Homo sapiens: one gene and its partners. Changing the gene in region 1 together with any one later gene gives a genetic interaction. Each region holds a gene or a part of one and is shown in the gene's direction. Other genes may lie near its edges.

Evidence for each region.
Region 2: changes in MAP3K10 (region 1) and CYP4F12 together harm fitness more than expected from each alone (negative genetic interaction), as found in Homo sapiens cells (one large-scale study listed by BioGRID).
Region 3: changes in MAP3K10 (region 1) and TPSAB1 together harm fitness more than expected from each alone (negative genetic interaction), as found in Homo sapiens cells (one large-scale study listed by BioGRID).
Region 4: changes in MAP3K10 (region 1) and SPHK2 together harm fitness more than expected from each alone (negative genetic interaction), as found in Homo sapiens cells (one large-scale study listed by BioGRID).
Region 5: changes in MAP3K10 (region 1) and DDR1 together harm fitness more than expected from each alone (negative genetic interaction), as found in Homo sapiens cells (one large-scale study listed by BioGRID).
Region 6: changes in MAP3K10 (region 1) and SLC5A5 together harm fitness more than expected from each alone (negative genetic interaction), as found in Homo sapiens cells (one large-scale study listed by BioGRID).
Region 7: changes in MAP3K10 (region 1) and CYP11B2 together harm fitness more than expected from each alone (negative genetic interaction), as found in Homo sapiens cells (one large-scale study listed by BioGRID).

What each region holds. Positions count from the first base shown.
Region 1 is NC_000019.10:40,211,926-40,215,425, forward strand, and holds part of MAP3K10 (mitogen-activated protein kinase kinase kinase 10), read left to right. Parts: intron 1-879; coding exon 880-1,051; intron 1,052-1,150; coding exon 1,151-1,263; intron 1,264-1,463; coding exon of another isoform or gene 1,464-1,591; coding exon 1,592-2,296; intron 2,297-2,724; coding exon of another isoform or gene 2,725-2,741; exon of another isoform or gene 2,742-2,976; intron 2,977-3,044; coding exon 3,045-3,367; 3' UTR 3,368-3,500. UniProt on the Homo sapiens protein: Activates the JUN N-terminal pathway.
Region 2 is NC_000019.10:15,676,087-15,679,586, forward strand, and holds part of CYP4F12 (cytochrome P450 4F12), read left to right. Parts: intron 1-2,174; coding exon 2,175-2,319; intron 2,320-3,500. UniProt on the Homo sapiens protein: A cytochrome P450 monooxygenase involved in the metabolism of endogenous polyunsaturated fatty acids (PUFAs).
Region 3 is NC_000016.10:1,239,555-1,243,054, forward strand, and holds TPSAB1 (tryptase alpha/beta-1 precursor), read left to right. Parts: upstream 1-1,150; 5' UTR 1,151-1,174; intron 1,175-1,384; coding exon 1,385-1,445; intron 1,446-1,598; coding exon 1,599-1,770; intron 1,771-1,879; coding exon 1,880-2,145; intron 2,146-2,272; coding exon 2,273-2,436; intron 2,437-2,521; coding exon 2,522-2,686; 3' UTR 2,687-3,000; downstream 3,001-3,500. UniProt on the Homo sapiens protein: Tryptase is the major neutral protease present in mast cells and is secreted upon the coupled activation-degranulation response of this cell type. May play a role in innate immunity.
Region 4 is NC_000019.10:48,626,006-48,629,505, forward strand, and holds part of SPHK2 (sphingosine kinase 2), read left to right. Parts: coding exon 1-357; intron 358-1,686; coding exon 1,687-1,836; intron 1,837-1,969; coding exon 1,970-2,064; intron 2,065-2,156; coding exon 2,157-2,272; intron 2,273-2,675; coding exon 2,676-3,500. UniProt on the Homo sapiens protein: Catalyzes the phosphorylation of sphingosine to form sphingosine-1-phosphate (SPP), a lipid mediator with both intra- and extracellular functions. Also acts on D-erythro-dihydrosphingosine, D-erythro-sphingosine and L-threo-dihydrosphingosine.
Region 5 is NC_000006.12:30,891,019-30,894,518, forward strand, and holds part of DDR1 (epithelial discoidin domain-containing receptor 1 isoform 2 precursor), read left to right. Parts: coding exon 1-102; intron 103-361; coding exon 362-461; intron 462-983; coding exon 984-1,170; intron 1,171-1,277; coding exon 1,278-1,524; intron 1,525-2,049; coding exon 2,050-2,145; intron 2,146-2,253; coding exon 2,254-2,405; intron 2,406-3,487; coding exon 3,488-3,500. UniProt on the Homo sapiens protein: Tyrosine kinase that functions as a cell surface receptor for fibrillar collagen and regulates cell attachment to the extracellular matrix, remodeling of the extracellular matrix, cell migration, differentiation, survival and cell proliferation.
Region 6 is NC_000019.10:17,870,651-17,874,744, forward strand, and holds the start of SLC5A5 (sodium/iodide cotransporter), read left to right. Parts: upstream 1-1,294; 5' UTR 1,295-1,669; coding exon 1,670-2,026; intron 2,027-3,107; exon of another isoform or gene 3,108-3,299; intron 3,300-3,487; coding exon 3,488-3,553; intron 3,554-3,843; coding exon 3,844-3,895; intron 3,896-4,013; coding exon 4,014-4,081; intron 4,082-4,094. UniProt on the Homo sapiens protein: Sodium:iodide symporter that mediates the transport of iodide into the thyroid gland. Can also mediate the transport of chlorate, thiocynate, nitrate and selenocynate.
Region 7 is NC_000008.11:142,915,044-142,919,182, reverse strand, and holds the start of CYP11B2 (cytochrome P450 11B2, mitochondrial precursor), read left to right. Parts: upstream 1-1,339; 5' UTR 1,340-1,342; coding exon 1,343-1,581; intron 1,582-1,968; coding exon 1,969-2,124; intron 2,125-3,937; coding exon 3,938-4,137; intron 4,138-4,139. UniProt on the Homo sapiens protein: A cytochrome P450 monooxygenase that catalyzes the biosynthesis of aldosterone, the main mineralocorticoid in the human body responsible for salt and water homeostasis, thus involved in blood pressure regulation, arterial hypertension, and the development of heart failure.

The sequences.
Region 1 (3,500 bases):
TGTTGGCCAGGCTGGTCTCCAACTCCTGACCTCAAGTGATTCTTCTGCCTGGGCCTCCCAAAGTGCTGGGATTCCAGGCAAGAGCCACCGCACCTGGCCTGGTATGGATTTTCTTTTAACTGCCCTGGGGCAGCCCCCAGAGCCATGCGAGCAAGGCACTGAGGGAATCAAATTGACCTTTTTCCCTCTGGCTGCTGTAAGAAATAAAGGTGGAGAAAGCAGTGAGATGATGGAGGCCAGGCCAGGGTGGGGGACTTGGAAGGGACAGATGTCCACAGTCGGGGCTATATGGCAGAGACACGGTCATCGGAGTTTCCTGGTGGGTTGAAGGGTGAAAGGCTAGCTCCCAAGTTCCAACACCTCATTCACCCCAGCACTGTCCCCACCCACAGCCCCCCTGCCCTCTGTCTGGGCACCTGCTTTGTACCAGGCCCAGGAGGTCAGTCCTGCAGGGGACACAGAGACAAATACCCATACCATGGCAGCAAACACTGGCACCAGATAGGTCCAGAGCATTGCAGGTACAGAGATGAAGGCAGCTGACCCCCAGGGAACTAACTACCCAGAGCTGGAGACCAGAAGCGCAGGCAGCCCGCCAGAATGAATGGTGAAGGGTTAGGCTGTGAAGAGGAGGGGAGGCTGGAGGAGTTGGCAGGGAACCGCTCATGGCCTTCAGTGCCAGGCGGAGGAGCTGGAACCTTGTCCTGACAGCAGTAGGGGGCTATGGGGAGATATATAGCAGGGAGGGTCATGACTGGAGTTCAAAAGAGCCCTTGGACTCCCAGGCGGAGGGTGGGCCTGAGCTGGGGGCACTGGAGGCTGGGAGCCCAGTGGGGACAGATCCTCCACCCAGTAACCAAGTGGCTTCTCTGGACCCAGTGACTCCCGTGGACTGTGGTGGCAGCAGCAGTGGCAGCAGCAGTGGAGGAAGTGGGACATGGAGCCGCGGTGGGCCCCCAAAGAAGGAAGAACTGGTCGGGGGCAAGAAGAAGGGACGAACGTGGGGGCCCAGCTCCACCCTGCAGAAGGAGCGGGTGGGAGGAGAGGAGAGGTGAGGTGTGGTGTGGTCATGCCCACCCTGTGCCCAAGCCCCAGCTCCCAGGCTCCAGGCCACAGGACTGAGGTCTCCATCTCTCCCTGGACCCCGCAGGCTGAAGGGGCTGGGGGAAGGAAGCAAACAGTGGTCATCAAGTGCCCCCAACCTGGGCAAGTCCCCCAAACACACACCCATCGCCCCTGGCTTTGCCAGCCTCAATGAGATGGGTAAGAGCCTGGGTTCTTGTAAGGGGGTGGGGGTTCCCTGGCCAAAGGGGTGAGCCTCCTGGGGCTGAGCGAAGAGACCAGGTTTCACTGGGCCAGTGAGTGGAAGGCCTTCCTGGGAAGGGAGATGGTGGCCCCTGGGGCGTGGGGGGTCATTTCCAGGGGCAGGGACCACCCTTCTCTGAGGCTTCTCCTGGAGACAGATTCAAGAACGATGCTCGTGGGTCTTGGTCTTGCTGTTGGAGGGGTCATCGGGGGCTGTCCCTTGGCACAAGTCCCCGTGGGGCCCTGGCCAGCCCTGCAGCGGAGTGATGGCCCTCTCCGGTTGCAGAGGAGTTCGCGGAGGCAGAGGATGGAGGCAGCAGCGTGCCCCCTTCCCCCTACTCGACCCCGTCCTACCTCTCAGTGCCACTGCCTGCCGAGCCCTCCCCGGGGGCGCGGGCGCCGTGGGAGCCGACGCCGTCCGCGCCCCCCGCTCGGTGGGGACACGGCGCCCGGCGGCGCTGCGACCTGGCGCTGCTAGGCTGCGCCACGCTGCTGGGGGCTGTGGGCCTGGGCGCCGACGTGGCCGAGGCGCGCGCGGCCGACGGTGAGGAGCAGCGGCGCTGGCTCGACGGCCTCTTCTTTCCCCGCGCCGGCCGCTTCCCGCGGGGCCTCAGCCCACCCGCGCGTCCCCACGGCCGCCGCGAAGACGTGGGCCCCGGCCTGGGCCTGGCGCCCTCGGCCACCCTCGTGTCGCTGTCGTCCGTGTCCGACTGCAACTCCACGCGTTCACTGCTGCGCTCTGACAGTGACGAGGCCGCACCGGCCGCGCCCTCCCCACCACCCTCCCCGCCCGCGCCCACACCCACGCCCTCGCCCAGCACCAACCCCCTGGTGGACCTGGAGCTGGAGAGCTTCAAGAAGGACCCCCGCCAGTCGCTCACGCCCACCCACGTCACGGCTGCATGCGCTGTGAGCCGCGGGCACCGGCGGACGCCATCGGACGGGGCGCTGGGGCAGCGGGGGCCGCCCGAGCCCGCGGGCCATGGCCCTGGTGAGTGAGGCGCCCTGCACCCAGGTCACAGAAAACCCCTTCTTTCCTCCTCTGCCAGGGTCGCAAGTCCAGCCCAGCCACGACCCCTCAGGCAGCCACCTCCTGCTTCTTGTGGAGGAGGGAGGGTCTGTGTCCCTTTACCGCTCACTCCTGGAGGCATCGGGGGTCTCCAGGGGACTGAGACACAGGCGGCAAACTGATGCCTATAAGGCCAGGCAGGTGCCTATAGCGGTTGTGACCAGCATGACCATCGCCAATTCTTACACAGCCTAGACACTGTTCTCCTCCATCTGTTAACTGGGTGGGAGATGCGGCCATAGCAGTGTTATTAAGTACCCACGTCAGGCACTGTGCTGCTTGTTTTAAGTTATGGTTATTCTATTTGCTCCTCACCTGCGTGGTGAGGCACCATTTTTATCCCCCTTCAGAGCTAAGCCATGCCTGAGCTTAGCCCAGTGCAGGAGAGTCGGGAAGACCAGGGCTTTGGCCCCCGAGGCTGCCGCTAAGCAGCAGTTCCAGAAGGTTGAGGAACATGCCAGGGTCCACCCAGAGGAGCAAGCAGCTGGGAGTGGTCCCAGTCTAGGTCAAGGTCCCAGCACTGCCACACTACAGATGGAAACTGGATGCAGCAAGATCCACGGATTTCTCGAGAGAAACCAGAACTTGTGCTTTTCATGTAACAGCTCTGGGCTTTTTAATGCCACCCTCTGCCCCACCCCACTCACCTCCTCTGAACCTCTCTTACCAGGCCCTCGTGACCTTCTGGACTTCCCCCGCCTGCCCGACCCCCAGGCCCTGTTCCCAGCCCGCCGCCGGCCCCCTGAGTTCCCAGGCCGCCCCACCACCCTGACCTTTGCCCCGAGACCTCGGCCGGCTGCCAGTCGCCCCCGCTTGGACCCCTGGAAACTGGTCTCCTTCGGCCGGACACTCACCATCTCGCCTCCCAGCAGGCCAGACACTCCGGAGAGCCCTGGGCCCCCCAGCGTGCAGCCCACACTGCTGGACATGGACATGGAGGGGCAGAACCAAGACAGCACAGTGCCCCTGTGCGGGGCCCACGGCTCCCACTAAGGCCTGCCCACCACCGCCCGCCTGGGCAGCCATGAATGTAGCGCCCCAGGCCCTGCCCCAGCCCGCCATGCCACAAGGTGGGGGAGGCCCTGGGCAGGATGTTCACTCTATTTATTGGGGAAGGAGGGAGGGG
Region 2 (3,500 bases), about 25 Mb from region 1:
CAGCAGAAGAGAGAGCAAGTTCTTCCTTTCCTCTGCCTTTTGTCCTGTTCATGCCCTCAATGGATTGGATGGGGTCTGGCGTCTCAGGGTGGGTGGACTTCCAGAGGGGTGGGACTTCCAGTAGGGGTTCAGGGAGCTGTGTATTGATGGTGGCTGGGGTCTGGGAACCCAGAGAACCAAGGGAGACGGCTCACTCATTCCTCTCCTCACTTACTCATTCCTGTGCCCATTCACTCATTCCTCTCCTCACTCACTCATTCTAATACCAACTCACTCATTCCTCTCCTCACTCACTCATTCCTCTCCTCACTCACTCATTCCTGTGCCCATTCACTCATTCCTCTCCTCACTCACTCATTCCTCTCCTCATTCAGTCATTCCTGTCCTCACTCACTCATTCCTTTTCTCACTCATTCATTCCTCTCCTCACCCACTCATTCCTCTGCCCACTCACTCATTCATATCCTCACTCACTCATTCCTCTACCCACACTCATTCCTCTCCTCACTAATTCCAATACCAACTCACTCATTCCTCTCCTCACTTACTCATTCCTCTATCCATTCACTCATTCCTCTCCTCACTCACTCATTCCTCTGCTCACTTAGTCATTCCTCTCCTCACTCAACTCATTCCTCACTCACTCATTCCTCTCCTCACTCACTCATTCCCCTCCTCACTCACTCATTTCTCTCCTCACTCATTCATTCCTTTACCCACTCACTCATTCCTCTACCCACTCACTCATTCCTCTCCTCACTCATTCCCTTCCTCCCATTCCTTTACCCACTCACTCATTCCTCTCCTCACTCACTCATTCCTCTCCTCACTTACTCATTCCTCTCCCCACTCACTCATTCCTCTCCTCACTCACTCATTCCTGTGCCCATTCACTCATTCCTCTCCTCACTCACTCATTCCAATACCAACTCACTCATTCCTCTCCTCACTCACTCATTCCTCCCCTCATTCAGTCATTCCTGTCCTCACTCACTCATTCCTCTCCTCACTCACTCATTCCTCTGCTCACTCACTCATTCATATCCTCACTCACTCATTCCTCTACCCACACTCATTCCTCTCCTCACTAATTCCAATACCAACTCACTCATTCCTCTCCTCACTTACTCATTCCTCTACCCATTCACTCATTCCTCTCCTCACTCACTCATTCCTCTGCTCACTTAGTCATTCCTCTCCTCACTCAACTCATTCCTCTGCTCACTTAGTCATTCCTCTCCTCACTCAACTCATTCCTCACTCACTCATTCCTGTCCTCACTCACTCATTCCTCTGCTCACTCTCTCATTCCCCTCCTCACTCACTCATTTCTCTCCTCACTCATTCATTCCTTTACCCACTCACTCATTCCTCTACCCACTCACTCATTCCTCTCCTCACTCATTCCCCTCCTCCCATTCCTTTACCCACTCACTCATTCCTCTCCTCACTCGCTCATTCCTCTCCTCACTCACTCGTTCCTCTCCTCACTCGCTCATTCCTCTCCTCACTCACTCGTTCCTCTCCTCACTCACTCATTCCTCTCCTCACTTACTCATTCCTCTCCTCACTCACTCATTCCTCTCCTCACTCACTCATTCCTCTCCTCCCTCACTTATTCCTCTACCCACACACTCATTCCTCTCCTCACTCACTCATTCCTCTACCCATGCACTCATTCTTCTCCTCACTCATTCCTTCCTCTCCTCACTCACTCATTCTTCTGCTCGCTCACTCACTCATTCCTCTGCTCACTCTTATTCTTCTCCTCACTCATTCCTCTCCTCACTCACTCATTCCTCTCCTCACTCACTCATTCCTCTACCCATGCACTCATTCCTCTCCTTACTCACTCATTCCTCTCCTCACTCACTCATTCCTCTCCTCACTCACTCATTCCTCTCCTCACTCACTCATTCCTCTCCTCACTCACTCCTTCCTCTCCACACTCACTCATTCCTCTCCTCACTCACTCATTCCTTTCCTCACTCACTCATTCCTCTGCACTACTATTTCCATCCTGTTTACCTTCAAATGCTAATCTCTTCTCAAACACCCTCACAGACACACACAGCAATAATGTTTGACTGGCTATCTGGGCATCCCTTAGCCCAGTCTAGTGGACACCTAAAATTAACCATCACAGGAAGTGACAGCCCTTGACTTGCTTTCAGATCACTCCTACAGAGGAGGGCTTGAAGAACTCGACCCAGATGTCGGCCACCTATTCCCAGGGCTTTACGGTATGGCTGGGTCCCATCATCCCCTTCATCGTTTTATGCCACCCTGACACCATCCGGTCTATCACCAATGCCTCAGGTACCCATGCAGAGCTTGTGGTGGTGGGTGCCAGACCAAGCTTCTGTGTGGTCTCTGCAGTACCCACGTCCCTCCTTGAGTACTCGTGCCCCTCATTGAGACTTCCTTCTCAATGTCTTCTCCCTCCATTGCCATCTGCTCCCTGTCTTGGTGTTCTGGGCACCACTGGGGCTCCAAGAGGCCTCAATTCAGGGCCCTTTCTGGAAGGAACCCCCATGCTTAAGGACACGGGTCTAGACAGAGACATTTCCAGCCTCATAGGGTCAGGAATGGGCAAGAGAGAGATGGGTATGACAACACAGAGAACTGGGTGTCTGCTGGGGCAGGCTGGAATGTTTCCTGGAGGAAGAGTTGTTGGAGCTATGTCTAGACCAATAAGTAGGATTTTTTAAGTGTGGGGCAGGATGATGCAGTGGGCATCATTGGTATTTGGGGTCCCAGCCAGTCCTTGCACCAGCCTTGCCCATCCCTCAGTCCAAAGCGGTAGGAGGATTTGTGGCTGGTGGAGAATCTGGGCTGCTATTTATGTGACATCCACCTATGATGGGTCAGTTCCTTCTACCTCATCCTATCACTCATCCACCCTAAGTTTCCTGCTCTCCTCCTATGGGCTTCAGGATTCTCCAATAGGAGAACCCACACCAGCTGCTTGACCTCCCCTTGCTCTCTGCTCTTCTCATCCTTGGACACACCAGGCTGAGCTAGGGAAGTGGCAGCATCCCACAAAATCTATGGCTCTGACCCCCAAATCCTTAGTGACTCTGTGCAGGTCACCAGCTCTCTGGCTGCTGAGGTCTCTTTCAGTTGTGAGTGATGGAAACTCAACTTCGTGTGCTCTAAGCAAATAAAGAGAGTCAAAGGAGTGTAAATTTCAGGGAGGGTGGTCTTCAGGCATGGCTGAATCCAGGTGTCAATGAACATTATCAGGGATCTGTCTCCTTTTCTTAATTTCACCATTTCTCTGCATCACTTTTTCTTTTAAGGCAGCCGTTCTCTTATCTGTCAACCATGGGTCCTAGCAGCTCAGTTCTTGTCCGAAAGCTCACCTTACCCCCAGGGGTCCCATAAATAGCCGCCTATAGTTTCAATATTATACCTGGTTATATCTTTTCTGTTTAACCTGGGATCATATGGAGAAGTCATCATGTGTGTGGCTCAGCTGTGGTCGAGGACACTTGGGG
Region 3 (3,500 bases), on another chromosome or scaffold:
TGCAGCCCGGAAGGAGTCCAGATGGATATGGCCCCGCAGTGCAGAGTCAGCCCCAAACCAGGCTGGTCCCAGGCAGGGTGGGGGCAGGAGGAGCCCCGGAGTGGCCCTGTGTTGGGGGTCGGGGGGCAGGCAGGGGGTCCTGGGGCTCAGAAGCGGAGGAGGTGGGCTGGAGGCCCCAGTGACCAACAGGCCCAGGGGAGTCGGGAGGTGGGGTGGACGGACCTGCAGGGACAGTGTCAGCGCTGAATGGGATGGAGAGCACAGGGAGCTGGGGCCGGGGATGAGACCATGGGGAGCTGGGGCTGGGGCTGGGACTAGTCCATGGGGAGCTGGGGCTGAAGTTGGGGGTGAGTCCATGGGGAGCTGGGCTGGGCCTCCTGGGGTTGCACCTGCACTCCTCTCTGCTCTTCCCTCTGCGTATGAAGCTCAGATCCCATGATAAGGAGGCACCTGCAGACCAGGGGACCTGCACGGACAGCCCCAGAGGTGGACATTGAGGACTCGTAGGAGGACTTGGGTCTCATACGGCGGGTGGGGAGCAGGGCCCCTTCCTGGCTGAGGACACTTGGTGCTGTCCCCTCTCAAGGCTGTTTCCCCATCTGACAAAGGGGTCTCACGTGAGCCCCCAACCAAGTGAGTCGAGGAGGGCTGGCCCCACCCCCGTGGATTCGGAGTCCGTAGGAGGGGTGTCACCCGTCATGTCCCCACCCCGTGGGCACCTTCCCGTCTCTTGGAGCGTGGCCCATGGACATGAGTTCCTCACCCGTGTCCCTCTTGGGGAAACAGGTTTCAGGAGCGACGGGTCTTGTAGCCTGGGGCAGCCAGGCCACCTGGGTGCAGCAATGCCTGAAGGCCTCCTGGCACCGAGACAGGGGCAGGAGCAGATCCCACCAGCGGGAAGGTGGTGGGTTCCAGTGCTGGGATCCACCAGCTGACAGGTGGAGCTGCCAGTCTCCAGTGCTCAGCCCTCAGCGGGGCCTGCCTGGCAGCCCCACACACAGAGGGCATCGGGGTGGCGGGGGCACGTGTTACACGGGGGCCCTGGGTCTGAGTCATCCACTTCCTCCGAGTCTGGATGGGAGGACCCAGCGCCCCTCCTCCGCCCCCTCCTGATCTGGAAGGATAAATGGGGAGGGGAGAGCCCACTGGGTAGAAGGAACAGGGAGCGGCCAGGGTAAGTCCCCACTCTCAGAGACCCTGACATCAGCGTCACCTGGAGCAGAGTGGCCCAGCCTCAGACTCAGAGCACCAAGACCCAGGCCCGCAGGCCTGGACCCACCCCGGTCCCCCCGTCCCAGCTCCATTCTTCACCCCACAATCTGTAGCCCCCAGCCCTGCCCTGTGAGGCCCGGCCAGGCCCACGATGCTCCTCCTTGCTCCCCAGATGCTGAATCTGCTGCTGCTGGCGCTGCCCGTCCTGGCGAGCCGCGCCTACGCGGCCCCTGGTGAGTCCCAGCCGGGGTCCACCCTGCCCCTCACCACATTCCACAGGTCAGGGCCTGGGTGGGTTCTGGGGAGGTCGGGCTGGCCCCCACACAGGGAAGGGCTGGGCCCAGGCCTGGGGCTGCTTCCTGGTCCTGACCTGGCACCTGCCCCAGCCCCAGGCCAGGCCCTGCAGCGAGTGGGCATCGTCGGGGGTCAGGAGGCCCCCAGGAGCAAGTGGCCCTGGCAGGTGAGCCTGAGAGTCCACGGCCCATACTGGATGCACTTCTGCGGGGGCTCCCTCATCCACCCCCAGTGGGTGCTGACCGCAGCGCACTGCGTGGGACCGTGAGTCTCCCGGGGCCTGGAGGGGTGGGGAAGGGCTGGATGTGAGCCCTGGCTCCCGGGTGCTCCTGGGGGCTGCCCAGGGCCCTGAGTGGGATCCTCCGCTGCCCAGGGACGTCAAGGATCTGGCCGCCCTCAGGGTGCAACTGCGGGAGCAGCACCTCTACTACCAGGACCAGCTGCTGCCGGTCAGCAGGATCATCGTGCACCCACAGTTCTACACCGCCCAGATCGGAGCGGACATCGCCCTGCTGGAGCTGGAGGAGCCGGTGAACGTCTCCAGCCACGTCCACACGGTCACCCTGCCCCCTGCCTCAGAGACCTTCCCCCCGGGGATGCCGTGCTGGGTCACTGGCTGGGGCGATGTGGACAATGATGGTGGGTCTGGGGACAGTGGAGGTGGGGCCAGGGTCTTAGCCACAGCCCAGCCCCTGGGCTCCCTCTGGGCTCCAGGTGGGGGTTGCCCGGCCCCCTCCTGAGGCTGCACCCTCTTCCCCACCTGCAGAGCGCCTCCCACCGCCATTTCCTCTGAAGCAGGTGAAGGTCCCCATAATGGAAAACCACATTTGTGACGCAAAATACCACCTTGGCGCCTACACGGGAGACGACGTCCGCATCGTCCGTGACGACATGCTGTGTGCCGGGAACACCCGGAGGGACTCATGCCAGGTGGGCCCCGCCTGTCCCCCGCCCCCCGCCCCCCAACCCCCACTCCCAGGCCTGTTCGGCGAGCGCTGACCTCTGACCTTCCCAGGGCGACTCCGGAGGGCCCCTGGTGTGCAAGGTGAATGGCACCTGGCTGCAGGCGGGCGTGGTCAGCTGGGGCGAGGGCTGTGCCCAGCCCAACCGGCCTGGCATCTACACCCGTGTCACCTACTACTTGGACTGGATCCACCACTATGTCCCCAAAAAGCCGTGAGTCAGGCCTGGGTTGGCCACCTGGGTCACTGGAGGACCAACCCCTGCTGTCCAAAACACCACTGCTTCCTACCCAGGTGGCGACTGCCCCCCACACCTTCCCTGCCCCGTCCTGAGTGCCCCTTCCTGTCCTAAGCCCCCTGCTCTCTTCTGAGCCCCTTCCCCTGTCCTGAGGACCCTTCCCTATCCTGAGCCCCCTTCCCTGTCCTAAGCCTGACGCCTGCACCGGGCCCTCCAGCCCTCCCCTGCCCAGATAGCTGGTGGTGGGCGCTAATCCTCCTGAGTGCTGGACCTCATTAAAGTGCATGGAAATCACTGGTGTGCATCGCTGTGTTTCTGGTTGTGGATGTCACTGGGAGAGAAGGGGTCCAGGTGTGCTGAGGACACCTGCCACAGTGTGAGGTCCTAGCCCTCAAGGCACAGCCAGTCACCGTGGGACGGGGCCTCCTGGGCAGCCCTGGTCCCCGAGGCTGGCTTCTCCCCACACGATGCATCCAGCATTCGGGTCACACAGAGCCACTCGGGCAACTCAGTTGATTATAAAGGACAGCCAGGTCCCTGCAACCGGGTCAAGACAGAGAATGGTCGCCGGGAGCCCCAGGGCTGCCCATCATGAGCCCCTACCCCACGCTTCCCACGAGCTCTTCTCCCGGCCCCTCTGTCCACTGCTTGTGCTTTGCCTAGTTGTTTGCTTTGAGACGGGATCTCGCTGTGTCATCCAGGCTGAAGTGCAGTGGTGTGATCAGGGCTCACTGCAGCCTTAACTCCTGGGCTCAAGCGATCCTCCCATCTTGGCCTCCCATATAGCTGGGCCA
Region 4 (3,500 bases), 8.4 Mb from region 1:
ATGGCGAGTTTGGCTCCTACCCAGCCCGAGGCCCACGCTTTGCCCTCACCCTTACATCGCAGGCCCTGCACATACAGCGGCTGCGCCCCAAACCTGAAGCCAGGCCCCGGGGTGGCCTGGTCCCGTTGGCCGAGGTCTCAGGCTGCTGCACCCTGCGAAGCCGCAGCCCCTCAGACTCAGCGGCCTACTTCTGCATCTACACCTACCCTCGGGGCCGGCGCGGGGCCCGGCGCAGAGCCACTCGCACCTTCCGGGCAGATGGGGCCGCCACCTACGAAGAGAACCGTGCCGAGGCCCAGCGCTGGGCCACTGCCCTCACCTGTCTGCTCCGAGGACTGCCACTGCCCGGGGATGGGGGTGAGGTGCTGGGCAGCTGCTCTATCCTGGAGCCACCTTGGTGTCTCTGCAGAATTTCCTCCATAGGCAGCTGTGTCTTTATTTTTCTGTGTGTCTGGGTGATGTATCTCTCTGGATCCGTTAGGAGTGATACACAGGGATGGGCTACAGAAGGAACAAAAAGACAAGAGGACCGGATGTGGTGGCTCATGTCTGTAATCCTAGCAATTTGGGAGGCTGAGGCGGGTGGATCACCTGAGGTCAGGAGTTCGAGACCAGCCTGGCTAACATGGTGAAACCCCATGTCTACTAAAAATACAAAAAATTAGCCGGGTGTGGTGCTGCGCACCTGTAATCCCAGCTACAGGAGGGTGAGGCAGGAGAATCGCTTGAACCCAGGAGGCAGAGGTTGCAGTGAGCTGAGATCGTGCCATTGCACTCCAGCTTGGGCAACAAGAGCAAAACTCTGTCTCCAAAAAAAAAAAAAAAAAAAAAAAAAGCACAGGCAGAGGTCGCGTGCAGTGGCTCATGCCTATAATCCCAGCACTTTGGGAAGCCAAGGCAGGCAGATCACCTGAGGTCGGGAGTTCGAGACCAGCCTGGCCAACATGGCGAAACCCTGTCTCTATTAAAAATACAAAAATTAGCCGGGCATGGTGACGGATGCCTGTAATTCCAGCTACTCGGGAGGCTGAGGCAGGAGAATCACTTGAACCCGGGAGGCAGAGGCTGCAGTGAGCCGAGATTGCACCATTGCACTCCATCCTGGGCGACAAGACCGATACTCCATCACAAAAAGCAAAACAAAACAAAAACGCAGGCAGAGAAAAGTGATTTACATCTGCTGTTCTCTTGCTAGATTTATGTTTCTGTCTCCTATCCTCTTCCCCTTTGCATGGGTCTTGACCACAGGTGAGTCACCCAGGGTGGTGAGAGCAGCAGCCTGAGACAGGACCAGGTACCACCCAGAGTGATGGGTGCCAACAGAGGTCTAGGGCTTCCCTGGAGTTCAGAGGTGGCATCTAATCCTGCCTGGGGCCCCTAAGGGCTGGAAGTAACCTAATCCTGGGTAATAGGTGTTTGGGGTGAGGAAAGTGGGAACCACAGCTCTGAACTACAGCTCCTCCCACACATGGGGACAAAGGGCATTTGGTTTCACACCTAAGCCCTGCCTTTGTCTCAGCAGCTAGGAGTTGGGGCAGGGCTGCATACCTAGGCCTGGCCACATGAGAGCCAGCAGGTCCCAGGGGCCAGCCCTCCACCAATTCCGTTGGGGGCTGATGAAGGGACTGTTTCCAAGGTGGGGGGCCTGGGTCACTGGCCTCTGCAGACCCTAACCTCTCTCCACAGAGATCACCCCTGACCTGCTACCTCGGCCGCCCCGGTTGCTTCTATTGGTCAATCCCTTTGGGGGTCGGGGCCTGGCCTGGCAGTGGTGTAAGAACCACGTGCTTCCCATGATCTCTGAAGCTGGGCTGTCCTTCAACCTCATCCAGACAGGTAAGGGCCAGTGAGAATGGGAGCTGGGGGCTGGGACAGCTGAGTCCTAAGGGAGCAAAGTGGTGGGTGGGACTCCTGGGTCTATGGGGCTGGGGTGGGACAGCCTGCCTAACAGCCCGGTATCCCACTTCAGAACGACAGAACCACGCCCGGGAGCTGGTCCAGGGGCTGAGCCTGAGTGAGTGGGATGGCATCGTCACGGTCTCGGGAGACGGGCTGCTCCATGAGGTAGAGCAGGAGCACCCTGCCCCTAGCCCTGGGCCCTGGGGGACTATAGAGACTGCCACCAGGACCCAGGCTTCTGGTCTCCCACCCTCCAGGTGCTGAACGGGCTCCTAGATCGCCCTGACTGGGAGGAAGCTGTGAAGATGCCTGTGGGCATCCTCCCCTGCGGCTCGGGCAACGCGCTGGCCGGAGCAGTGAACCAGCACGGGGGGTAGGTTGAGGATACCACGAAGGGAGGGATGAGCCCCTCCTGGGGTGATAGGGACCCCTATATCTCCCACTCAGCCAAACCCACAGTCAGTCAAGTAAATCAGCCTGCCTGTGGGATGCTCACCCCCAGCTCCTGGACATTTTTGCCTGCCTGCTTCCCAGCTGTATCCCGAGCGCCCAGAACTCTGCCTGGCATGGGAGGCACTCAGTGAATTGTAGGGAGCAAATGAAAGATGACCAGGAACCTGGCCCCGTAAGGAGTCGCCTGGAGGTGGCCCCACGGCTGTGGTGGGCCTGGGCCATGGCCTTCGTGGTCTCATTGCCAGCTGCTTTCCTACCTGTCTCTTTCCCCAACCCCTGTTTGCTCCTTCCTTCTGTGTGTCCGTCCATCTCCGGCTGTGAAGATTTGAGCCAGCCCTGGGCCTCGACCTGTTGCTCAACTGCTCACTGTTGCTGTGCCGGGGTGGTGGCCACCCACTGGACCTGCTCTCCGTGACGCTGGCCTCGGGCTCCCGCTGTTTCTCCTTCCTGTCTGTGGCCTGGGGCTTCGTGTCAGATGTGGATATCCAGAGCGAGCGCTTCAGGGCCTTGGGCAGTGCCCGCTTCACACTGGGCACGGTGCTGGGCCTCGCCACACTGCACACCTACCGCGGACGCCTCTCCTACCTCCCCGCCACTGTGGAACCTGCCTCGCCCACCCCTGCCCATAGCCTGCCTCGTGCCAAGTCGGAGCTGACCCTAACCCCAGACCCAGCCCCGCCCATGGCCCACTCACCCCTGCATCGTTCTGTGTCTGACCTGCCTCTTCCCCTGCCCCAGCCTGCCCTGGCCTCTCCTGGCTCGCCAGAACCCCTGCCCATCCTGTCCCTCAACGGTGGGGGCCCAGAGCTGGCTGGGGACTGGGGTGGGGCTGGGGATGCTCCGCTGTCCCCGGACCCACTGCTGTCTTCACCTCCTGGCTCTCCCAAGGCAGCTCTACACTCACCCGTCTCCGAAGGGGCCCCCGTAATTCCCCCATCCTCTGGGCTCCCACTTCCCACCCCTGATGCCCGGGTAGGGGCCTCCACCTGCGGCCCGCCCGACCACCTGCTGCCTCCGCTGGGCACCCCGCTGCCCCCAGACTGGGTGACGCTGGAGGGGGACTTTGTGCTCATGTTGGCCATCTCGCCCAGCCACCTAGGCGCTGACCTGGTGGCAGCTCCGCATGCGCGCTTCGACGACGGCCTGGT
Region 5 (3,500 bases), on another chromosome or scaffold:
TTGGGCCCCCCATGGTTGCCCGACTGGTTCGCTTCTACCCCCGGGCTGACCGGGTCATGAGCGTCTGTCTGCGGGTAGAGCTCTATGGCTGCCTCTGGAGGGGTGAGTGGCTCAGCTTCCTGGGAATCTGTTTCCTGAGCAGGGGACTGGAGGGTGGGGAGTGTGGAGAATGGGCATCCAGGATCCCTTCTCCTGCTGGGAAGCTGTCACTCTGAGGAGGGGGCTAGCCAGCATTGTCTCCTCCATGCCAATGAGCCAGTGGAGAGATACAAGAAGGGACCTGAAACCTGCCCAGGCCTGATGCAGGGATGGGGGATGGAGCCTTAGTGCCTCTGACCCCCATCCTCTCACCCTGCCCCAGATGGACTCCTGTCTTACACCGCCCCTGTGGGGCAGACAATGTATTTATCTGAGGCCGTGTACCTCAACGACTCCACCTATGACGGACATACCGTGGGCGGGTAAGAAAGGCCCCTGCAGGATATGGAGTTTGGGGTGGGAGGGAGGACTGTGTGTGTGTGTGTGTGTGTGTGTGTGTGAGAGTGTGTGTGTGTAGGGGGGCTGGTAAGTAGGGTGGGGAGTGAGATGGAAGAGCTGAGAAGAGGGATGGGTTAGGTGGGGCCTCAAAGGGTAGCACTAGGGTGACCACTAGCCCGTATGACACTGTATGAAAAAGGCACCCCTTTGCTAACACACATTGTTGGAAATTGCTGCAATAAATATACACATCATAGATTGAAATGGTGCCCCTTAGAGGTGGTGCCTTTGTGCTGGATGTGACCTGCAAGGTACCTGTAGTGCTGGGGTGGGGTGGAGAGAGGAGAAGGGCCAGCTGCATGAGTGTGAGGTGGGATGGGAATGGGACTAGTGGATGGGAGCCAGGCTGGCCATGCCACTGTGCCGGAGGGTGGCGGAGCAGAATGCCTGGATGTCAAGACCCTCTTCCCTTCCAACCTCCTCTTCCTTGGTCCCCTCTTCTCCAGACTGCAGTATGGGGGTCTGGGCCAGCTGGCAGATGGTGTGGTGGGGCTGGATGACTTTAGGAAGAGTCAGGAGCTGCGGGTCTGGCCAGGCTATGACTATGTGGGATGGAGCAACCACAGCTTCTCCAGTGGCTATGTGGAGATGGAGTTTGAGTTTGACCGGCTGAGGGCCTTCCAGGCTATGCAGGTGAGTGAGTCCGGCTCTCGAGGAGGGCTCTGAAGCCATGCAGGGTGCCGTTGGGGTGCCCCCACCACTCCTAGCCTTGACCCTGTGCCCTCTTCCCTTCCCCCCAGGTCCACTGTAACAACATGCACACGCTGGGAGCCCGTCTGCCTGGCGGGGTGGAATGTCGCTTCCGGCGTGGCCCTGCCATGGCCTGGGAGGGGGAGCCCATGCGCCACAACCTAGGGGGCAACCTGGGGGACCCCAGAGCCCGGGCTGTCTCAGTGCCCCTTGGCGGCCGTGTGGCTCGCTTTCTGCAGTGCCGCTTCCTCTTTGCGGGGCCCTGGTTACTCTTCAGCGAAATCTCCTTCATCTCTGGTAAGCCCTGGAGTAGCCCAGTCTCCAGTCCCTGAAATTGACAACTGATTTCATTCCTAACCCTGCAGTGTCCCTAAAATACTCATTCCTTGCATTATATCTACCCATCACCCACCGAAACTTCTCAATTAGGGGTGCCCCAAATAACTTGAGCCCCTTTCTGCCTCTTGTTCTCTGCGTATCCATCTTTCCTTTGTAAGCCCCTTGCCCGTGACTATTATTGAGCCAGTATGACAGTACTGGTTGTTAAAATATTGAAATACTTCTGTATTAGTTGAGAAATAGCCTCTTCTCTAAGCCTCCAGATACCTGTCCTCCACCTCCCCACAATCCAGCAACTATAGGGTTAACACCCACCACAGCTGGGTGTTCCAGGACCCTGCTCCCCCAGCCCCCACTGGTCAGTGGTTGCCTATTGAGAATCACCCATGCTTCTGCTCCTTTGCACAACAGTCCACTGCCTCTGCCTCCCTTGGGTCTCCTCCTCATTTACCTCCCTCCTTTCTTTTTGTTCCTTCTCCCCAGATGTGGTGAACAATTCCTCTCCGGCACTGGGAGGCACCTTCCCGCCAGCCCCCTGGTGGCCGCCTGGCCCACCTCCCACCAACTTCAGCAGCTTGGGTGAGCAATCTTGGGTGGGCGTGTGGACCCTCTGCACCCTTCTCCCTGGGCCTCCCCCTCGGCTAGGGTGGGACCCTCCTGTGGTGCTGACCCTGCTGCCTCCACCAGAGCTGGAGCCCAGAGGCCAGCAGCCCGTGGCCAAGGCCGAGGGGAGCCCGACCGCCATCCTCATCGGCTGCCTGGTGGCCATCATCCTGCTCCTGCTGCTCATCATTGCCCTCATGCTCTGGCGGCTGCACTGGCGCAGGCTCCTCAGCAAGGTGGGCACAGCCGTGGCATGTGGAGTGGCGGGGGGAGGCCAGGCCCCAGCACGAGCCAGCGTCCAGTGGGACCTGCAGGGCACAGCCCACTAGCATCCCAAGAGGAGGGCTTAGTAAAGAGACCACTTACACCATGTCAAAGAGGGTATGGGGCTCACAGGGAGGGCTGCTCCCCAGCTCTGGGTCTGCTCAGCGGAGAGGAGCAAATACCACGACCCAGAGGAGAGAGCCTGTGGAGAGGGCACCTTGACAGGGGCAGTAGACTTTGGTCCTGGGATGCAGCTGGCCCGTATCTACCCCTCAGGGAGGGCCTGGGAGAATAGATGCCCTGACCTCACTTTCTGCCCCAAACTCCTGCTGGGCTCCTCTCTGGCTAACCCAAACCAGGCCTGTTGGTGCAGTGTACACTGGTCAGCCTTGGGGCAGAAGCAGGGTAGAGACAGGCAGAGAGTGGGGTTGGAGGGGCAAAGGGAAGACGTCTGGCACACCCCAAGCCACGTCTTCCGGCTGGAGTCCAGTGGCAGTAATGTACATTAAGGTTGATGACTGGACACGGTGGCTCATGCCTGTAATCCTAGCACTTTGGGAGGCCGAGGCGGGAGGATCACCTGAGGTCAAGAGTTCGAGACCAGCCTGACCAACATGGTGAAATCCCATCTCTACTAAGAATACAAAATTAGCCAGGCATGGTGGCTGATGCCTGTAATCCCAGCTACTCAGGAGGCTGAGGCATGAATCTCTTGAACCTGGGAGGCGAAGGTTGCAGTGAGCTGAGATCATGCCATTTCACTTCAGCCTGGGCGACAAGAGCAAAATTCCATCTCAAAAAAACAAACAAACAAAAAAAAAACGGTTGATAGTTATGGACTGGGCAGATGAGGGTTAGAATCTCATTGTGGGACAGGGAAGTTACCTCCATGCTCTTGAGCTTCACTTTCTCTGCCTGTAAGATGGTGCTGATAGTATCCACAGCTGTAGGGCTCTTGTGAGGGCTGAGGGAGGGAACGCAGGGATGGACACAGCAGAGGGCCAGGCCGTGTGTGCTGAGCAACACGGGTGATGCCTCCCATCCCTATGACAAGGCTGAACGGAGGG
Region 6 (4,094 bases), about 22 Mb from region 1:
GCATGTGCCACCACGCCTCGCTAATATTTGTATTTTTCATACAGACAAGATCTCACTATGTTGCTCAGGGTAGTCTCGAATTCTGGGACTCAAATGATCCTCCCACTTCAGCCTCCCAAAGTGCTGGGATTACAGGCATAAGCCATCATGCCCGGCCTCTGACGCTGTTTCTTTCAACCCCCAGGATTTCAGATTCCACCAGCTTATGGAGAAGGGAACCAAGTTTGAGATGCGTGATTGCCCAGAAAGTTGGAGGCTGAGCTGAGACTTGAACCCAGAGACCAGAACCTCCAGAGGTCAAAGTCCTCCTGGGTCCCCCAGAGAAGGGCCCTGAGATGACAGCTCGTTGGTCCTCATGGAAGCGTGACCCCCCCAGTAGACTTTCTCCCACACCCAACCTTGGTTTCCTCATCTATATGATAGGGACAAGCCAGACTCTACCTCCCTGGTGGTCATGGTCTCCGCTTATTCGGGTTCATAACCTTAAAGGCCCCTCGCACCACCTCAGTGAGCCATTTATGCCTGGCACAGGGCCAACTCTCAGTGCATATCTGCAAAGGAACCAATGAATGAATGAATGAAGTGACAAATGAATAAAGGAATAAATGAATGAGGCACTTATCATGTACCAGGCTTTCGTTACCACGTCCCATTTATTCCTCTGAGGCAGGGTCTATTTTATCCTTGTTACAGATGGGGAAACTAAGGCCCAGGGAGGAGCAAAGTCTTCCCCAAGTATGTACCCACTCAGAACTTGAGCTCTGAATGTCTCCCACCCAGCTTAGCCCAAGAGCGGGGTTCAGTGATGCCCACCCCCTAAGGCTCTAGAGAAAGGGGGTAGGCCCACATGCCAGTTTGGGGGTGGTAAAGCCAGGTAAGTTTTCTTTATGGGTCCCCTGAAACCCTGAAAGTGAACCCCAGTCCTGCATGAAAGTGAGCTCCCCATAGCTCAAGGTATTCAAGCACAATACGGCTTTGAGTGCTGAAGCAGGCTGTGCAGGCTTGGATAGTGACATGCCCTCTCTGAGCCTCAATTTCCCCACCTGTCAACAGCAGACAGTGACAGCTGTGATCAGGGGATCACAGTGCATGGGGATGGGTGGGTGCATGGGGATGGAGGGGCATTTGGGAGCCCTCCCCGATACCACCCCCTGCAGCCACCCAGATAGCCTGTCCTGGCCTGTCTGTCCCAGTCCAGGGCTGAAAGGGTGCGGGTCCTGCCCGCCCCTAGGTCTGGAGGCGGAGTCGCGGTGACCCGGGAGCCCAATAAATCTGCAACCCACAATCACGAGCTGCTCCCGTAAGCCCCAAGGCGACCTCCAGCTGTCAGCGCTGAGCACAGCGCCCAGGGAGAGGGACAGACAGCCGGCTGCATGGGACAGCGGAACCCAGAGTGAGAGGGGAGGTGGCAGGACAGACAGACAGCAGGGGCGGACGCAGAGACAGACAGCGGGGACAGGGAGGCCGACACGGACATCGACAGCCCATAGATTCCTAACCCAGGGAGCCCCGGCCCCTCTCGCCGCTTCCCACCCCAGACGGAGCGGGGACAGGCTGCCGAGCATCCTCCCACCCGCCCTCCCCGTCCTGCCTCCTCGGCCCCTGCCAGCTTCCCCCGCTTGAGCACGCAGGGCGTCCGAGGACGCGCTGGGCCTCCGCACCCGCCCTCATGGAGGCCGTGGAGACCGGGGAACGGCCCACCTTCGGAGCCTGGGACTACGGGGTCTTTGCCCTCATGCTCCTGGTGTCCACTGGCATCGGGCTGTGGGTCGGGCTGGCTCGGGGCGGGCAGCGCAGCGCTGAGGACTTCTTCACCGGGGGCCGGCGCCTGGCGGCCCTGCCCGTGGGCCTGTCGCTGTCTGCCAGCTTCATGTCGGCCGTGCAGGTGCTGGGCGTGCCGTCGGAGGCCTATCGCTATGGCCTCAAGTTCCTCTGGATGTGCCTGGGCCAGCTTCTGAACTCGGTCCTCACCGCCCTGCTCTTCATGCCCGTCTTCTACCGCCTGGGCCTCACCAGCACCTACGAGGTACCGGACAGAGGCCCGGGGGTAGGACCTGCCCCACTGGCAGTGCTGGGACCCCGTGTGGGGGAGGCGCTGGGGCTTTGGGCCGCTGTACAGGAGGACGCGGATGGCACCTCGGTGCTTTAACGGAAGGGGCCCCTAGGCAGACACGTGGGGAGGGTTCTAGGAAGAGGCCCCAGGCGCCCGGCGAGGGGCAGGAAGGAGGAAGAGAGAGCCTGGCGTCCTGCTCCTTCGGTGGAAGCGCGCGCGGGGCGGGGCCCGGCTCGACCAGGTGTGTCCTCACGGGTGGACACACACCTGCCCCCCACCTGCCCGGGCGTGCAGACCCACGTGTGCGCGCTAGAGGGGACTGCTGACGGCTCCGGGGTTCGAAACCTGGCTTCACTGCTTTCTTGTATCTTGGGCAAGGGGCGTGCCTCTCTGTTTGGGTTTCCCAGCTGTCCAATGGGCGAATTACAGGACCTCCCTCCAGGGGAGAGGGTAAAGCGATTAAAATCGTGACCGGGGCCCGGTGCGGTGGCTCACGCCTGTAATCCCAGCACTTTGGGAGGCCAAAGCATGCAGATCACCTGAGGTCAGGAGTTCAAGACCAGCCTGGCCAACATGGCGAAACCCCGTCTCTACTAAAAATACAAAAATTAGCCGGATGTGGTGGTGGGCACCTGTAATCCCAGCTACTTGGGAGGCTAAGACAGGAGAATTGCTTGAACCCGGGAGGTTGCAGTGAGCCGATATCGCGTCACTGCACTCCAGCCTGGGCGACAGAGCGAGACTCTTGTCTCAAAGGAAAAAAAAATATTGTGGCAGGGCGCAGTGGCTCACGCCTGTAATCCCAGCACTTTGGGAGGCCGAGGTGGGTGGATCACGAGGTCAGGAGTTCAAGACCAGCCTGGCTAACATGGTGAAACCCCGTCTTTACTAAAAATACAAAAATTAGCCGGGCATGGTCGCGCGCGCCTGTAATCCCAGCTACTCAGGAGGCTGAGGCAGAAGAATTGCTTGAACCTGGGAGGCGGAGGTTGCAGTGAGCCGAGATCGTGCCAGTGCACCCTAGCCTGGGCGACAGAGCGAGACTCCGTCCCCCCTCCCCCCCAAAAAAATCGTGACAGGTATATCCTAGGCGGCCAACACCATTGGCCCGGGGCACTGTCTACACTGTGCGCTTGCGGGCCACGTCGGTGTCTGCTGAGCGGTGGCTGCTCCAGGAGCCCGCGCCCGTCAGGCGCAAGTGGGAGGGCGCGTGCACACGCATGGACCAGTCCTCCAGGTCCACGGGGTACGCACAGGCACGGGATGGCACCTGTGCACGGGTGTGTGCGTGCGGCGGGGCCCCCACGTGCAAGAATCTGGCGGGCGCGGTTGGCTTCCGGAGGGAGGGGCCCACCTAGAGAGCAGACCAGGGACCCGAGAGGCCTCGGCTCCTGGGTAAGGACTGTCCAGGTGACCTCGAGTCCCTCCTTGCAGTACCTGGAGATGCGCTTCAGCCGCGCAGTGCGGCTCTGCGGGACTTTGCAGTACATTGTAGCCACGGTGAGTGGCCTCGGCCCCGCCCTCCGCTCAGGGCCCCGAGAGCGTCAGCCTTCACTAGCCCGGCCCCCACCATTCAAGACCCCGCCCAGACCCCGCCCCCCATGCTCCCGTTCTGACCCCGCCCCCATCAGTCCCCTCCCACACCACAGCCGGCCTGACCCCGCCTGCACTCTGGAAGACCCGGCCTATCTGCCCCGCCCATATTCTGGGACCACCCTTCTGCCTCCTCTCCCCATCCCCAACTCGCCCAGACGCCCTCCCTGCTCACCCGCCCCACACTCTGTCTACAGATGCTGTACACCGGCATCGTAATCTACGCACCGGCCCTCATCCTGAACCAAGGTGTGACTCTGGGAGATTAGGGAAGCATGTCTGGGAAGAGAAAGGGAGGGAGAGGAGAACCCAAGACTAAGTTTGCGCCCCGCCCAGGGGCCTAACAGGGGGACCTCTTTTTGCATAGTGACCGGGCTGGACATCTGGGCGTCGCTCCTGTCCACCGGAATTATCTGCACCTTCTACACGGCTGTGGTGAGTGGCCCTG
Region 7 (4,139 bases), on another chromosome or scaffold:
GATGCAAGGGATGGGTGAGTGGAATTAAAAATATCTTATTATTTATTTATTTTGAGATGGAGTCTTGCTTTGCTGCCCAGGTTGGAGTGCAGTGGGATGATCTCAACTCACTGCAACCTCCGCCTCCTTGATTCAAGCATTCATCTTGACTCAGCCTGCTGAGAAGCCGAGATTACAGGCATGCGCCACCACACCTGGCTAATTTTGTATTTTTAGTAGAGACAGGGTTTTGCCATGTTGGCCAGGCTGGTCTCGAACTCCTGACCTCAGGTGATCCACCTGCATCAGCCTCCCAAAGTGCTGGGATGACAGACATGAGCCACTATGCCCAGCCTAAGAATATCTGATGATTATAAAGTGCTTGCATTACCTCTGAAGCTGTATAGTGTTATATGAAGGTGGAGTTGGAGAGATGAGTTTTAAGCGTATATTGCAAACTCTAGGGCAACCACTAAAGAAGTGAGACCCAGCCTCTAGAAAAAAAAAAAAAAAAGGAAATTAGCTATCAAGCCACGAAAAGAAATGGAGGAACCTTAAACGCATATTACTAACTGAGATACGTCACTTTGAAAAGGCTACAAACGGTGTCATTCCAACTATACAACATTTTGGAAAAGGCCAAAGCATGGTGATGATAAAAAGATCGGAGATGTCAGGGACTGGGGCAGGAGGGATGAGCAGGCAGAGCACAGGTTTTCTTTTCCTCTTTTTAAGACAGTGAAAATACTCCTAGGATCCTGCAAGGAGGGATACAAATTACATACATTTGTCAAAACCCACAGCATGTTGACCACCAGGAGGAGACCCCATGTGACTCCAGGACCCTGGTTGATAACAACGTATCGAGATTCCTCACATGGAACCAGTGCGCTCCTGTGGTGGAGGGTGTACCTGTGTCAGGGCAGGGGGTACGTGGACATTTTCTGCAGTTTTTGATCAATTTTGCAATGAACTAAATCTGTGGTATAAAAATAAAGTCTATTAAAAGAATCCAAGGCTCCCTCTCATCTCACGATAAGATAAAGTCCCCATCCATTTTACTCCTCTCAGCCCTGGAGAAAGGAGAGGCCAGGTCCCACCACCTTCCACCAGCATGGACCCCCAGTCCAGACCCCACGCCTTTTCTCAGCATCCTCAGACCAGCAGGACTTGCAGCAATGGGGAATTAGGCACCTGACTTCTCCTTCATCTACCTTTGGCTGGGGGCCTCCAGCCTTGACCTTCGCTCTGAGAGTCTCAGGCAGGTCCAGAGCCAGTTCTCCCATGACGTGATATGTTTCCAGAGCAGGTTCCTGGGTGAGATAAAAGGATTTGGGCTGAACAGGGTGGAGGGAGCATTGGAATGGCACTCAGGGCAAAGGCAGAGGTGTGCGTGGCAGCGCCCTGGCTGTCCCTGCAAAGGGCACGGGCACTGGGCACTAGAGCCGCTCGGGCCCCTAGGACGGTGCTGCCGTTTGAAGCCATGCCCCAGCATCCAGGCAACAGGTGGCTGAGGCTGCTGCAGATCTGGAGGGAGCAGGGTTATGAGCACCTGCACCTGGAGATGCACCAGACCTTCCAGGAGCTGGGGCCCATTTTCAGGTAAAGCCCTCCCTGGCCCTCGCTGGGAACACCCAGATCCCTGCCCCTGCTGCCCAGGACCCTGCCAGGCACTCAGCACTGCCATTCCCAGCAGGTCCCGGCACTCTGCATCCTTTGGAGGATGGGGAAGGAGTGCAGCACATGCTGGTCTGTGGTGCTGCCAGGGCAGGGGATAGTGCAGAGAAAACCCCAGCTCACTGCAGAGAGGGCAGGACTCAGAAGCACTAAAGTTGAAAGGTTCCAGGGAGCCAGCAGGAGGGCTTTAGCTGTGAAGCCGCTAATCCAGGAGCAGGGAGGGTGGACAGGAGACACTTTGGATTGGGACTGCAGGGTGGGGCCACGAGGGACATGACCCCGTCCAGCAGGGCCTCCTGCTTGGCCCCACAGGTACAACTTGGGAGGACCACGCATGGTGTGTGTGATGCTGCCGGAGGATGTGGAGAAGCTGCAACAGGTGGACAGCCTGCATCCCTGCAGGATGATCCTGGAGCCCTGGGTGGCCTACAGACAACATCGTGGGCACAAATGTGGCGTGTTCTTGTTGTAAGCGGCGAGTTGGGAGCTGAGAGCTGGGAGCAGGGTGGGCAGCCTGGGTGTAGGGGGGAGGCGAGAGAGGTAGGACCCAAAAGCACATCTGCCCTGGGCCCCTGTGGTGGGCAGTGAGGGTGAGCACCCGGCCCAGAGGACGGCCATCCTGTGGGGTCGCGTCTGCACTGTGGGTTGGGGAAGCAGGGCGGTGGTGGAGAAATGGGCACGGGCACCTCTGCAGAGAAGACGCAGAGCAATGAGCCCTTCTGTGTAGTGAGAACCCGCTCTGCACCAACCTCGGCGGCTGCTTTCTCTTGCGGTCTGGGGACTGTCCTTCCCATAGGTCAGAAAACTGAGGCCCTGAGAAGGGGACTTCCACTGGCCCAGGTCACAGGCTGAGTGCTGAGCCTGGTGTTCGCCGGGGCCACAGCCTCCCTCAGGGCGCTCAGGGTCCCTGCAGTCCTGGCAAACCTTCCTGATGGGGACAGTCCGGGGCAGGAGGCAGGTGGGGACGCAGGTGGCTGGTGGTTCCGTTGTTCTCAGAAGCAAGGCACAAGGTGGGGCGGTTGATGGCACTGGGGAGGATGTTTCCTGGCCCGTGGAGAGGGTGGCGCCTGGTCAGGTGGGCAGGGAGAGGCTGATGCTTGGAGTCGGTCACCTGCAGGGATGTTGTCATTAGGACGGGGGAAGGACTGGATGAGGATGTCACAGTGGTGACAGCCCCCACTCCATGGTAGGAAGGGAACGCTATTGGGAATAGTGGGGTTTAGGTAAAAGGGCACCCGTGGGTCGGGGCCTTCACTGAGGCTGGCCTATAGATGACATCTGGGAGAGAGTCAGGACCCAGGAAGGCAGGTCCAGGAGGCTGGGTGCGCATAATGGAAGGAAGGGGAGCGCTCCTGTATGTGTGTGTGTCTTGCATCTGTGCACATGCTGTGTGTTTCTCTGTACCTGCATTTGCACATGTGTAGTGTGTGCACGTGTCTGTGTGTGAATGTATGTGTGGTGTGTGTGCACAAGTGTCTGTGTGTGTGCATGTGCAGGTGCCGGCATGGGTGTAGTGTTTGTGCACACATGCACATGCGTCTCTTCACACATGGTGTTGAGGTCTTGCATGGGCGCACGTGTGCATGTGCATCTTCTGCCTGTCATCACTGTCAACAGCTCACAGCAGCCAGCTGGACATAAATAAAGGAGTTTTGCAGGAATGTGGCTGACAGGGGAAATTCCTCCCCACCATTCCCTGGGGGCATCCATGGAGCCCCCACGCACTCTGGCTGTGGGTGAGGATGGCATGAAGCACAAAGCTTGGTTTCTGTCCTGCAGAAGATATAGATGCTTCACAGAGACAGGCAGAGGCTGCTGCCCCAGAGGCACTGTGCCCAGGGCGGGGAAGGGTGGGGAGGAGAGGGCAGCCAGGGGCTCTCCCCTCAGGACACTGTGTGGGTGAGGTGGGCAAAGCTTGACAACAGGGGTCACCTCCTTTCTTGGAGAAAAGCCCTACCCTGTTACTACAGGGAGGGCCCGCATGGGTGAGGTGGTGCCAGACTTGGGTCGCCAGGTCCCGGGAATGACCTCAGTTACCCTGTCAGCACCTGTGGGCAGAAGCTACCATCTCATCCCTGCTTAGACCTGAGTGGCCTTTGCCCAGCACCTGGAGGCCGCTCTGAGAAAAGGCTGCAGCTCGAACACAAACAGGCAGCTTCTACCAGGGCCCCCAGTCAGCTCCCTGCAGGCCGATTCCCCTTGGGGACAAGGAGGATGGGATACGGGTCAGGGCCTGTGTCTTGCTGGGGCGGCCTCACAAGCTCTGCCCTGGCCTCTGTAGGAATGGGCCTGAATGGCGCTTCAACCGATTGCGGCTGAACCCAGATGTGCTGTCGCCCAAGGCCGTGCAGAGGTTCCTCCCGATGGTGGATGCAGTGGCCAGGGACTTCTCCCAGGCCCTGAAGAAGAAGGTGCTGCAGAACGCCCGGGGGAGCCTGACCCTGGACGTCCAGCCCAGCATCTTCCACTACACCATAGAAGGT